Linked DNA regions of Homo sapiens. The protein of the gene in region 1 purifies or fractionates together with the protein of each later gene. This does not show direct contact. Each region holds a gene or a part of one and is shown on either strand. Other genes may lie near its edges. The genes, in order: SMPD3 and BRI3BP.

What was found.
Region 2: the proteins of SMPD3 (region 1) and BRI3BP purify together in Homo sapiens (affinity purification with mass spectrometry; one large-scale study listed by BioGRID and IntAct). This does not show direct contact.

Annotation. Positions count from the first base shown.
Region 1 is NC_000016.10:68,441,970-68,445,788, forward strand, and holds part of SMPD3 (sphingomyelin phosphodiesterase 3), read right to left. Parts: intron 1-3,819. UniProt on the Homo sapiens protein: Catalyzes the hydrolysis of sphingomyelin to form ceramide and phosphocholine. Ceramide mediates numerous cellular functions, such as apoptosis and growth arrest, and is capable of regulating these 2 cellular events independently.
Region 2 is NC_000012.12:124,996,551-125,000,369, reverse strand, and holds part of BRI3BP (BRI3-binding protein precursor), read right to left. Parts: intron 1-3,819. UniProt on the Homo sapiens protein: Involved in tumorigenesis and may function by stabilizing p53/TP53.

The DNA.
Region 1 (3,819 bases):
TACCCAGGCTAGTCTTGAACTCTTGGCCTCAAGCAAGCCTCCTGCCTCAGCCTCCCAAAGTGTTGGGATTATAGGCATGAGCAACCGTGCCTGGGCTATTTCAACTTAAAATTTGGGTTTTGCATTGGTATTGGATCAAAGAAGCCTATGTTAACGGAAATGTATCCTTTGGGTAATTAAATGAACAGAGCAACAGTTTAGGACAGTGGAAAGAACATGCTTTAGGCATTAAAAAATCTGGGTTCTAAGCCCCATCTTAGAACCACTAACCAGGGCTGTGGCCAGAGCAGCCCTCAACTTCCCTCGCTGTCTTTCCTCATGTTAAAAAGACATGATGGTTTATGATTATTAATATCCTTTCCATTTCTAAAGCTCTTTCTGCTTACAGCACACATTATTTCAGGGTTTCTGTGTCTGTTTCCTTGTTCCGTTCAAGATTTCTATAAGAAAGGACTTATCCCACATTGTGGTTGTGTTCCCCGTGCCCAGCGCTGTGGCTGACACATTTTTGTAGGCACAAGAAATGTCTGTTGAATGAATGGAAATCCAGTCCTCCTTTGAGGGACTCCTGGGCCTCCCAGTTCTTGCCAGAATGATCACAACAGCCTTAGCAATTAATTGCACTTTCTCATATTGGCCTAAAATCTTAACAATCTAAGCTTTCTAAAGGGTTATAGCCAGGATTAGAAACCATTTCCTGATCCTGTGTGCAAAGGAGGTGGTACTCAGCCCTAGGTGTGGCTGCCTAGAGACCCCCACAAATGGCCTCCTTCTTATTACACGCTGTTCTGATGCTGAGGAGAGTTAATTAATGACTCTAAATAAGAAAACAATCAAATCTGTCTGCAGTCATATGAGTCAGAGCAGACCCAGATGGGGTGCCGGGTCCTTGGCTTCCAAGCGCCCTCGGGAAAAGCAGTAGCAGCCTTTGCTCCTTTCATCAGAGCTCTGCGAAGCCCCAGCTTGGAAGGGGAAGGAATCACTCAAAATGGAATGGAGACTCAGCTTGATATGAAGAATTTTTCTTAAAAGTCTAACCCCTTATCTGAGTGTTGTACAGACTGAGGCCCAGGGAGAGGAGAAAAAACATAAGTTCATTCCTTTCTACCCTCTTTAGACATCCAAATCGAATGGGGAGTTCTCAGAAACCGGCCCCTGTGTGTGTTGCAAGATTGGAGCAGTTGGAACTGCCACTTTAGGAGGACAAGACTTGTGGTCTGAAATTCACCAAACCCCAAACCTGCCCACCTTCTGGAGTCTTGCAGCCACATATGGAGGTAGAGCTTTGGTTGGGTGGCATAAGGACAGGAATGTGATGCTTTCCTGAGATTGGCTGAGGCCCACACAGTGAAAATTTTATTTAGGTGTTAGAGGCTTTGCTATGAAAATCTGAGAGTGCAAATAGGTGGAAGGAATCTCTTAACAATATCTGAGTGTCTTCAGCTTTGGAATAGGCTGCTAGGAAATAAAGATAAGCTCTATTTCTTTGGCTGTATGTGTACTCTTTGTCAAATAACAGCTTCCTCATGTTTTTTTTCCTTCCTTTCTTAAAAACGAAAAACAATGACAACACTTTGTTGCCATCTACGCTTGGCTTCCTGTGAAAATTTTCCACAGTGGAAAGAAACCCCTGGGCTACTGGTCATGAAGGTCATTATACTACCCTTTCCCCATTCTTTGGTAACCAAGTTCAGTTAACAAAGCTGGATAAGATATAAAGTAGGTGGCACTATCCTTGCTGAACTTGGAAAGACTGATTTGTGTCTAAATCCTAGTGGGTCCGCAATCCTATTCCTCTGGCATTTGATTATAAACTTACATAGAATAATCCAATAGTTCAGTTTTATTTCTGTAATAGCAATAGGGAAAAAACAGTGGTAAGGAGGAACTTCCAGAGTTTGAGATCCAGGATGGAACCTAAATTCTTCCCCTTCTGTGTAACCTTGGGAAAGCCCTCAAAGCTTGGTTTCCTCACCTTGAAAGTGGGAATTATGCCACCACCTACCTCACAGGACTGTGAGGATTAAATACATTCTTACATGTGAAGAGCCTGAGTCAGAAAATGTTTCCTCTTATTAGCTCATAATTCTTTAAACAGGGATTGCTGATGAGTTTGTTCGAAGTAATGCAGTAATATCCACCACAGCTCTGTTTCCTCCTATTCCATTCTGTAATCAGCTTTGGGGAAATCCTCTTGGAGGCCATGGCCCTCAGCTCTTGCTTCTGGTCCACACCCAGAAGTCCTCCCTTCCCACCAGGTGGGTGAGGCCAGCACTCCAGAACCTTGGACAGCTCTCCTCCACAGTGATCCAGCTGGCTGCCCCAGGGAGCAGGAGGGTCTTGGGAAATTTTCCGAGAAAAGCTGCATTAGTGCAGTGATTTAGGAATACCAGGGCTGCAGTCTCATTTCCAGCATGCATGCTGCCACTTGCATGCGTGTTCAGATTCTTCAACATGACCAGCCCTTCTGGAAATTTCTAAGGAGCCTCTCAGAACTGCTCACAAGATTTACCAAATCTTAGGGCCTTTTCCTTCTTTTCTATGAACTCCAAGAATTTTTTTTGAGCCCAAAAAGAACAGAAACACCACCCACATCTTCCTGAATCTGCTGATATTTAATTTGTTTGGCTTCAGTACAAGGATTAAACATTCTTGATTAACTTCAAGTGAAAGTAATAATGTATGAGCATGAGGAAATGTTTTACAAGACAAAGATACAGGTATAAATTAAAAGAAACATAAAATAACGTTATTGCCTGTAGGTGATGTTAAGCACCATTCTAATCAGGATAAGCAGGTGGTTCAATTTATGAGGCAATTTAGCTTTTCACTCTCCAATGCAGAATACAACACACCATATGCAGTCACCTTCCAAACAGGCAAGGAAGAGATTAAGTCCTATTTTTACTTTATGATACTGAGTCACATAGTTCAATGCAAATCACATGGATGCCAAAGTAAGAACAATACCAGGTATTAAAATACCTTCTTTCCTTTGCAGAGCTGCAGAGCTCTTAGGATTTTGTGACTGCAAGAAATTCCTTCAGAGTAACTCCAGGAGAAGAGACACATGTCACCAGATGGGTATTTAGGACTGAGCATGTCTTATCTCTCTCCCCCACTTCTGTCATTAGGCCTGGAAAGCCGTATTTGCAGCTTTTTGCATTTGGTAATAGCCTCCAGAAGCCTTCATTTTCTGGGCTACATTGTTTTTGAGGAAAAGAGGGCTTGCCTTTGAAAAATGTTATTGACTAATTTAATAATGACAGAAAGAAGAGGATAAATGTGGAACAGGGAAAGAGGAGAAAAGAGTAGTAGAGGTAGAGGTAGAGACAGGAGATGCCTAAATCTCTTTGGCCTTGATAAGTGTTTTCCATGCATTGTCCTTATAAATGGGTTTGATGCCCACCTTCCACTGGTCAGAAACTTGAACAAAGACCTTCAAGCCCTCTTTAAACATTTCCATAGAGGTGAAGACAGCAGCAATTCCATGGCTTGAACTAGCTTGAAAGAACTTCAGACAAGAACATCAACTCAACACTCTGAAGGTAGGAGGGAGCCCCCCAATAGAAAGATTTGTGATTTTACCTGACAATGCTCACACTCACTCTGAGCCTCTACACCATGGGGGAGTGTTAGTTGCCAAATTGTGACTGGTTTAACCTCTTTCCAGCAGAGGTCGCTGTGGACACTGGGAGTGGATACTTGTGGGAACTGGATCAGGCAGCCTGGGCTAGATAGATGGTGGCTACATTGTGTAGTACTTGCTCTTTCTGTTGTTCTCCTGGCCATCATCTGGTCTCTCATCCTATGGGAAGT
Region 2 (3,819 bases), on another chromosome or scaffold:
TGCACTCCAGCCTGGGTGGCAGAGCGAGACTCCCTCTCAAAAAAAAAAAAAAAAAAAAAAATCATATGAAACTTTATCTTAACTGTGGTAATTTTTCACAAGTGTGTATGTCAAAAGGTGTCAACCTGTACACTTTAAATACGCACAGTCTATTGAGGTGTAGTGCAATTACACCTCAAAAAAGCTGTTAAAATGTTGGTAGGGGAAAAAGGACTGGAAAGTGTCAAAGTTATTTTGCTCAAAATACTTTCTTGCAAACAGCAAAAAATGCAAACCTCTTTACAAAAAAAAAAAAAAAGCAAAAACAAAAGAACCCAACAGCTCAATAGAACGGCAAAAAAAAAAAAAAAAAAGAAAAACCAAAAGGCAGTTCCCAGAACATATCGATGGATTCTGAATAAATGAAAAGACCATCTGTCTCATACATAATAAAGCCAAAAAGTTTAATGAGGCTGGGTCGGGTGTCTCACACCTGTAATCCCAGCACTTTGGGAGGCCGAGGCGGGCGGATCACGAGGTCAGGAAATCGAGACCATCCTGGCGAACACAGTGAAACCCCGTCTCTACTAAAAACACACAAAAAAATTAGCTGGGCATGGTGGCAGGCGCCTGTAGTCCCAGCCACTTGGGAGGCTGAAGCAGAAGAATGGCATGAACCCAGGAGGTGGAGCTTGCAGTGAGCCGAAATTGCGCCACTGCACTCCAGCCTGGGCGACAGAGGGAGACTCCGTCTCAAGAAAAATAAATAAATAAATAAATAAAAATAAAAAATAAAAAACTTAGCAGGGCATGGCGGTGCAGACCTGTAATCCCAGCTACTTGAGAGGCTGATGCAGGAGGATCATTTGAGCCCGGGAGGTAGAGACTGCAGTGAGCCAAGATTGAGCTACTGCACTCCAGCCTGGGCGACAGAGGGAGACTCTGTTTCAGGGAAAAATAAAATAAAAATACAAAACAGTGCGCATAGTGCAAAATAAACAAAAACCAACAATAGGGAGCAGATCTATAGATCCATATATTTATACATGTTCAGAATATCTGGCTGCTTCGGGGAAGGGGGTGGTAGACGGGTCGGTAGTGGGAAGTGGAGTTAGTTTCTTAACCTTCAGAACTACATGAAATTGTATTCCATGCAACTACGACCAAGGAGCAAGGGAAAAAAGTACTAGTTTCTCGACCTGGCATTCAGGATGTTTCCACCACATCAGTCCAGCTATATTCTGCCTGAGAGGAATCATTTTCTCCACATACAGTAGGTGCTTGAAATTTTTCATTTGTTTGTTTTTTTTGGAGACAAAGAGTTTTGTGCTGTCCCTGAGGCTGGAGTACAGTGGTGTGATCACAGCTCACTGTAGTCTCAACCTCCCAGGATCAAGCGATCCTCCCTATGCAACCTCCCAAGTAGCTGGGACCACAGGTGTGCGCCACCATGCCTAGCCAAAGGTTTTGGTTTTTCGTAGAGATGGGGTCTCACTATGTTGCCCAGGCTGGTCTCAAACTCCTGGGCTCAAGCAATCCTCCCACCTAGGCCTCCCAAAGTGGTGGGATTACAGATGTGAGCCACTGCACCAGGCCAATTTTTTTAAAAAACTGTAGTCATATACACATAAAGTTGGCCATTTTAACCATTTTAAAGTGTACAATTCAGTGGCATGAGCACGTTCACAATATCATGCAACCATTATTATCTAGTTCCACAATCTGTCATCACCCCAAAAGGAAACCCTAGATCAATTAAGCAGTAATTCCCCCATTGCTCCCTCCCCCAGCCCCTGGCAACCACCCATCTGCTTTCTGTCTCTACGGATCTTCCTATTCCAGATATTTCATATGCTGTAAATGGAATCATATAATGTGTGCCCTTTCGTGACTGGCTTCTCTCATTTATTCAAGGTTCGTCCAAGTTGTAGCATATAGCAATACTTCATTCCTTTTTATGGCTGAATCATATTTCATTATACAGACACATCACATTTTATCCCTTCATCAGCTGATAAGACATTTGGGACATTTCCACTTTTTAGCTATTGTAAAAAGTGTTGCTATGAACACATGTGTATAAGTTGCTTAATAATTTTTTTTGAGACGGAGTCTCTGTTCCCCCGGCTTGAGTGCAGTGGGGCGACTCAACCTCACCGCAACGTCAGCCTCCCGGGCTCAATCTATTCTCCTGCCTCAGCCTCCCAAGTAGCTGGGATTACAGTCGTGCACCACCACGCCCAGCTAATTTTTTTTTTTTTTTTTTGAGACGGAGTTTCACTCGTTGCCCAGGCTGGCGCGCGCAACGGTGCAATCTTGGCTCACTGCAACGGCCGCCTCCCGGGTTCAAGCGATTCTCCTGCCTCAGGCTCCCAAGTAGCTGGGATTACAGGCATGCATCACCACGCCTGGCTAATTTTTTGTATTTGGTAGAGACAGGGTTTCACCATGTTGGTCAGGCTGGTCTTGAACTCCTGACCTCAGGTGATCCATCCACCTTGGCCTCCCAAAGTGCTAGGATTACAGGCGTGAGCCACCACACCTGGCCTAATTTTTGTATTTTTAGTAGAGACAGGGTTTCGCCATGTTGACCAGGCTGGTCTCGAGCTCCTGACTTCAGATGAGCTGCCCACCTTGGCCTCCCTAAGTGCTGGGATTACAGGTGTGAGCCACCATGCCAGGGCATCACTTAATAATTTTTAAAGGAATTAACAAGTCTATTACCTCCTACCAGACAAATTCCCTTCATATAGAAATATTCTACCATTTACTAAATGCTTATTCAGTCCCTGGCATTGTGCAGCCCAACCAATCTCCTTTAATTCCCCAATTTATCTCCTCTGAACAAATGGGACACAGATAAGTAAAGCAACTGGGTGGTGCACGGTGGTTCACGTCTGTAAATCCGGCACTTTGGGAGGCCGAGGCAGGCAGATCACCTGAAGTCATGAGATCGAGACCAGCCTGGCCAACACAGTGAAACCCTGTCTCTACTAAAAATACAAAAATTAGCTGGTCGTGGTGGCATCTGCCTGTAACCCCAGCTACTAGGGAGGCTGAAGCAGGAGAATTTCGTGAATCCGGGAGGCGGAGGTTGCAGTAAGCCGAGAGCTCGCCATTGCACTCCAGCCTGGGAGAAGAAGCGAGACTGCATCTCAAAAAAAAAAAAAAAAAAAGAGAAGTAAAGCAAAAAAAAAAGAGAAGTAAAGCAACTGGCTCAGGGTCACAGAGCGAGTGAGAAACAGCTAGGATTCAAACTCATGTCTGTTCCCATGCTCCAAACAGGATGGTCATAGGTGTATTTCAGACAAGTCCTAGATTAGAATATGGGAGGCCGGGCACGGTGGCTCAAGCCTCTAATCATAGCACTTTGGGAGGCTGAGGAGGGCGGATTACGAGGTCAGGAGTTCGAAACCAGCCTGGCCAACATGGTGAAACCCCATCTCTACTAAAAATACAAAAATTAGCCAGGCATGGTGGCACACACGCCTGTAATCCCAGCTACTCAGGGGGCTGAGGCAGGAGAATTGTTTGAACCTGGGCGGCAGAGGTTGCCATGAGCCAAGACTGAACCACTGCATTCCAGCCTGGGCGACAAAGCAATACTCCATCTCGGAAAAAAAAAAAAAAAAAGACTATGGGGTGTTTTTTTAAATACCATTAAACTTCACAAAGCAGGTTTGGCTCTAATTCGTAAACCCAGGCATGCTGAAAACTACAGTTGCTGGCAGACCCAGTTTTCCTTTATTTAAAATTCACAAAACAGGCTGGGCACGGTGGCTTACGCCTGTAATCCCAGCACTTTTGGAAGGCTGAGGTCGGCAGATCACTTGAGGTCAG